Linked DNA regions of Homo sapiens: region 2 is linked to region 1. Evidence: fine-mapped expression QTL. A gene starts in region 1. The other region holds a variant in brackets. All regions are shown on one strand. Distances are between the middles of the regions. Region 1 holds the start of TRIM61 (tripartite motif containing 61). Region 2 holds the start of FAM218A (family with sequence similarity 218 member A).

The links. PIP is the estimated chance that this variant, and not a neighbour inherited with it, causes the effect.
Region 2: its variant is fine-mapped to the expression of TRIM61 in whole blood (INTERVAL, PIP above 0.99). The same link has a PIP of 0.9 or more in lung.

The regions. Positions count from the first base shown.
Region 1 is chr4:164,976,104-164,979,016 of GRCh38, forward strand. It overlaps TRIM61 (tripartite motif containing 61), which reads right to left and starts at 1,554. Exons shown (of 3, transcript NM_001414904.1): 1 at 1,428-1,554; 2 at 585-722. RefSeq lists enhancers at 1,663-1,742, 1,773-1,832.
Region 2 is chr4:164,955,812-164,958,724 of GRCh38, forward strand. FAM218A (family with sequence similarity 218 member A) reads left to right here and starts at 1,137. Exons shown (of 1, transcript NR_160935.1): 1 at 1,137-2,913. It also overlaps a transcript of TRIM61 not described here. RefSeq lists enhancers at 887-936, 1,237-1,396. The variant T/C (reference allele first, on the strand shown) is at 1,199.

The DNA.
Region 1 (2,913 bases):
TAGATTCTATTGCTCACATGTTTGTTGCTGACCTTCTCCTTATTATAACCCTGCTCTCCTACTACATTCCTTTTTGCTGAAATAATGAAAATAATAATCAATAAAAACTGAGGGAACTCAGAGGCCGGTGCCGGTGCAGGTCCTTGGTATGCTGAGCGCCGGTCCCCTGGGCCCACTGTTGTTTCTCTATACTTTGTCTCTGTCTTATTTCTTTTCTCAGTCTCTCGTCCCACCCGACTAGAAATACCCACAGGTGTGGAGGGGCAGGCCACCCCTTCATAAAGGACACAAGAGGACTCACTCCAGGTATCATTGTGCCCTCCTTTCCCCAAGCATACACCCAAAGCAGTCTTCTCTACTATTTAAAATCAGGACATTAAGTGAACAGAACAGCTCTGTAGGCACAGTCACCACCCTAGTTTAAACCACTTATGTCTCTCTCCTAGATACACAATGGTGCCTCCAATTTCTGAAGTCTGTAGCTAAACTGACCTTTTCAAATACAAACAGAATCCTTTCATATTTCAACTGAAAACATTCCACTGGTCCTTTATTACTTTATGGAAGCAATTCTCAAATCTTACCTTGCATTATAATCACCTGGAGGTCTTGGTAAAAGATTGCCTGGGCCACATCCCCAGTTTCTGACTCAGTAGGGCTGGTTTTTTCCTAAGTTCCCAGATGATGCTGCTGGCCTGCGGACTGTACTTTGTGAACCTATGCTTTAAGGAAAACAAAGCAAAAAGATCCATTAAGATCTAGTCCAAGTTTTTTGCCTAGCTCCCATCATGTCACATATCACAGTTATGTGATTTTACAGCTACTCTGCAATTCTTTACCTAACTGTAAAAACCCCTCACCAGGCAGCAAGCTTCTTGGTGGCAATACGTCTCTAGCTTGTTTGAGGAATAAATAAAACCTGTGGTAGATTCCAAGCTCTCAGTTTCAACCATCATCATACTGGCTGATTCTTAACATGCCTGCACCTAAAGCGCCTCATCTACAAAGTTGAAATGATAATTCGTACCTGTAAGACCCTTGTGAGGATTACAGGATGCTTACATAGGTCGAGGGTGCAGACGACGTAGGCTGGTGGGTTCTCAACTGGCAGCTACCACTTCGCTCCCTTAACTCCCCAACCCCCACTCCCAAACACGTACATTAACTCTTTGAAGATAACATAGCCACTTCATAAACCCTAATTCAGATCATAACATTTAAAGCTTAATTGATACAGGCTCAACACCCCCATTCTAACTCTACAATCCTGAATTTTTCACAAGAGCTACGCCAGACACTAAGGAGATCCAGTCGTGGGCAGGCAGCGACCCGGAGGTTTAGGCACAGAGAATGTTCAAGAAGCCCCTGTCCAGTTAAGCCTCCTGGCGAGGCCCTTCTGGGCCTTTCCTGCGGCCTTCCCAGCTCACCTGGAGCAGACGGATCAGCAAATCCGGCCAAAGAATACTCAGGACCCACCGAGCCCCCGCGAGGAAGGACTCATACCCCAACCCCACCAAGTGGGCTGCTTCCTGCCTGGGGCTCAGCCTGCGCGGTGGTTGGCAGTTGCCCCGGAAGTGGGCGGGAAGGACCTGCGCATGCTCTGTGACCCTGGGTGCAGGGATTGTGTGAAGATTGAGAGCTGGGGGCGCCCTCTTCCGTGATCAGGGCCCCGTTGGCCCCAACTGGCATTTAATTCCCCTGGCTGTCTTTTCGGATTCTTATCACTTTTTATGTATATGAGTAAACTTGAGGGTCCAAGTAAGTCTGCAAGTTGGTTTTAAAAGCTTCACCAGCACAGCGTCCCCTCCCAGATGGTGAGGGAGTGGAGAGCTTTGCAGGGTCAACTGCTTCCCGTAGCCTGGGGTCGCAGGGTGGAGTCGTTGAGCACTCCCTATGCTTGAAAGAGGAATAGAAGCCCCTTTGGATTAGTTTGCATCTCAGTGGGTGAGTGGGTGGATCTCTCCCACCCTGTGGGATTGTGCCCTACCCTATGAACTCAGGTTTACCTGAGGAAGTGACATTTCAGGCGGAATTTGAGGGATGAAGAGGCATTCGTTGGATCAATTCCACGGTCAAAGTCTTCAAGGCTGGAAGAAGAGCCAATGTGGAGCCTCTCAACTTTAAAGAATTTAGTACAGGCCGGGCATAGTGGCTCACACCTGTAATCCAAGCACTTTCAGAGGCAGAGGTGGGAGGATCGCTTGAGGCCAGGAGTTCAGGACAAGCCTAGGTAACATTGCCAGACCCTGCGTCTACAAAATATTTTAGAAATGATTTTTTTTTCTTTTAATAAGAGACGGAATCTCTCTTTCGCCCAGGCTGGAGTGCAGTGGCGCGATCTTGGCTCTCTGCAACCTCTGCCTCCCAGTTTCAAGCAATTCTCCTGCCTCTGTCTCCCGAGTAGCTGGGTCTATAGGCGCACGCCGCCACGCCTGGCTAATTTTTTGTTGTTGTATTTTTAGTAGAGACGGGGTTTCATCGTGTTGCCCAGGCTGGATTCGAACTCCTGAGATCAGGCAATCCGCCCGCCTCGGCCTCCCAAAAGTGCCAGGATTACAGGCGTGAGCCACCTCACCCAGCCAGAAATGATAATTTTATTTTTATTTTTATTTTTTTTTTGAGACGGAGTCTCGCTCTGTGGCCCAGGCTGGAGTGCAGTTGCGTGATCTCGGCTCACTGCAAGCTCCGCCTCCCGGGTTCACGCCATTCTCCTGCCTCAGCCTCCAGAGTAGCTGGGACTACAGGTGCCTGCCACCACGCCCAGCTAATTTTTTGTATTTTTAGTGGAGACGGGGTTTCACCGTGTTAGCCAGGATGGTGTCGATTTCCTGACCTCGTGATCCGCCCGCCTCGGCCTCCCAAAGTGCTAGGAGTACAGGCGTGAGCCACCGCGCCCTGCCTAGAGATGATAAT
Region 2 (2,913 bases), 20 kb before region 1:
CTCAATCCCGATTTAAACTAATTTGGCAGTTTTATGAGATTAAAGAGGGTGTAGACAGGAAATTGGTAGAGGATGGAAAATCGATTAAGATTAGGGACAACTGTGAGGAGGAAGACAAAGGAGACAGAATCTGAGAGCCCTGAGGCGGACTGAAAACGGGGAGGCGGCTCAAAGAAAAGAGTAAGAGAAATGAGCTTTTCTGGAACGAGGCATTGATAACGCTGAAACATGATTAGCCTTTTGAAATAAATCTTTCGTTTATTTATTTTTTTGAGACAAGCTCTCGTTCTGTCGTCCAGACTGAGGTGCAGTGGCGCCATCCTGGCTCACTGCAACCTCAACTCCCCAGGTTCAAGCGATTCTCCCACCTCAGCCTCCGGAGTAGCTGGGACCACAGGGGCGGGCCAACATGTCCGGCTAATTTTTGTATTTTTTGTACAGACAGGGTTTCACCATGTTGGCCTGGCTGGTCTCAAACTCCAGAGCTCATGTGATCCGCCCACCTCAGCCTACCAAAGTGCTGGGATTACAGGCATGAGCTTCCATGCCGGGTATAAAAGGAAGCTTTTAAATTGTGGAGTATTTCATACATCCATAATAGTAGAGAGAACATTATGAAGAACGTACACATAAAAAGAAACCAATTTCTATCATTTGAATTAACAATCTTTATAACCCCAGCAACTTCTCCTGCCAATGGAGTAAATTCCCAGACATCTTATAATTTCATCTGTATATTTCATCTTATAATTTCATTATTTATTCCCTAAAAGACAATATCTCAATTATCATAGTGTTACTGTAACTTTTAATAAGCTGTTCAGTGGGAATTATAACCATATTTTTCTCCAACCAGTTATAAATAAGATTCAATAAATTAAAACAGCAACTGGAATTCTCTTCTGTTAAGGCGGGGCAGGGAGAGCCCTCAGTCTGGCACAGGTAGGGTTGGGTGGCAGAAGAGCAAAGCAAACAGCTGAGGTTCCTTCAGAATGCAACTTTCTCACAGAACACAAGGCTCTCAAGGGGCTTCAGCACCCCAAGCACTGCAGCGTTTCTCCCAGGAGGCTGGGCGAGTCCGTAGCGGAAGTCGGAGCGGCAGAGCAGTGATTGGGTGCGGCCGGCACCGTCTCTGGGCTTCGACTTCCGGGTGAGACCGTGAAGGTGTGGCGCGACGTTGGAGACCGGGGCAGCGCCA[T/C]GTACCACAGTGGATGGAAGGATGCGCGGTGCGGCGGGGCAGCTGTCCTCTTCTCCCCGGACCCAGCGCCTGGAGAGCCAGCCCTGCAGGGTGGGCTGGGCGAGCCAAACTGCGTTCCTGGTGCAGGGCTTCGGGTCTCCCTAACAGACCTTATACGCTGACCGGCGGCCGCCATGGCAGTGTCTCTTTGCTCAGACATCCAGGGACGACCACATTCGTCCAACAGCGGTCGCTCCACCAATCCTGGGAGAAGCGAATCGTTTTCTCCGCGTGCCCTGTCAGCCGCTCATGGTGCCCAGAGAGGAATTTTAGTGGCAGCATTCCGGCTGTCACGCCACCGAAATTGCCAGGCCACTCCAAGTCAGAAGGACCACCAGGAAAAGTCAGGAAGAGAACCACCATCAGGTCCCAGCCTCTTTTTGTGACAAGGACTAGAGGGTTTGGGTCTGCAGTGGGCTGGCTCCCGCTGGGCTCACCTGTCCTATAGAGCAGGCTGCCTCAAGGAAGAAGCTCACAGGGGACATCTGACATCTGAAACAGCAAGTGTAAAATGCTTTAAATAAGCCAAAACTAAACCAATCGTTATGTTAACTAAAAATACATGAATGCTACCGAAGATAGTCGAATATTAGAGGAAGAGATTAAACTCTGATTTTGAGCACTTTGTGCTTTATTCGGAAAATGAATAAGATGCAGTTCTGAAAACCTGAAAATATAAAGAATAGGATATGATACGCACACTAGATGAAAACAAAACTTTCAGACCATATTTTCTTATTTAAAGCTCTAATAAGTGAGATAGCAGAGTAAACTATTCACTCAAATAATTAGTAACTGATATAAGGGTATGTATCAATAACAGGTATTAAGACAAAAACTTTATGAGCTTTTCCATTTTAACAAGGGATGATGATTCTAGACTTCTGCCACAACATTATGGTCGACAAAACATTCTTAATTCATTTTACATAGATCTGACTCTAGATTCTGAAACAGCAAGTCATAATCTTGTATCTCTAAAGATAGAATACAGTGCGATTTGGAAAGACACCACAAAAACTCATGATCCAAAAAAGATTAAGGCTGTTATTACCAGGAGGAAGAGAAAGAGGACAAAATCAAACTGGATAGATATAATAGAGTTGTTTGTTAGAATTGTCTTCCCAGGAGATGGAAAAAGACGCCATCACAATAGGATTCATGCTTTAGTTTTCAGCTATAGAAATGTAATAACTTTGCCAAAGTAATTACACTACATAGAGTGGCAATCGTTCTATTAAAAGTAAGACCCAGTAATGTTAGGATTTGTTCTGGACAATGAAGGGGATGAGGTTTAATCTTATGACTTGAATGCCAGGTCTGAAATCTTTTCTTCAAGTGATATTTTTATGAAACTACTTAGGCTGTGTTTCACACTGGGTATGATTTCTAACCTCTTATAACCTGTACAGTAATAGATTATGAAGGATGAATTATTTGAAAGCTATTTTGTATTATTTAGGAGAGGAGCTCTTCAATTCTGAATTGTCTGCCACTTACAAGCAGAAGAAAGTTTTTTTCTTTCATTATTTTAGCAACTATCAATAAAACAGTATTAGAAATGCCTACTCTTCAGAGATGTAATGGGAATAAATTGTAAAGTACTTTTGATATTCTAAGATGAAAGATGGTATTACACAGTCAATAATTCAATGCTTCCCACATTATGAATTTTA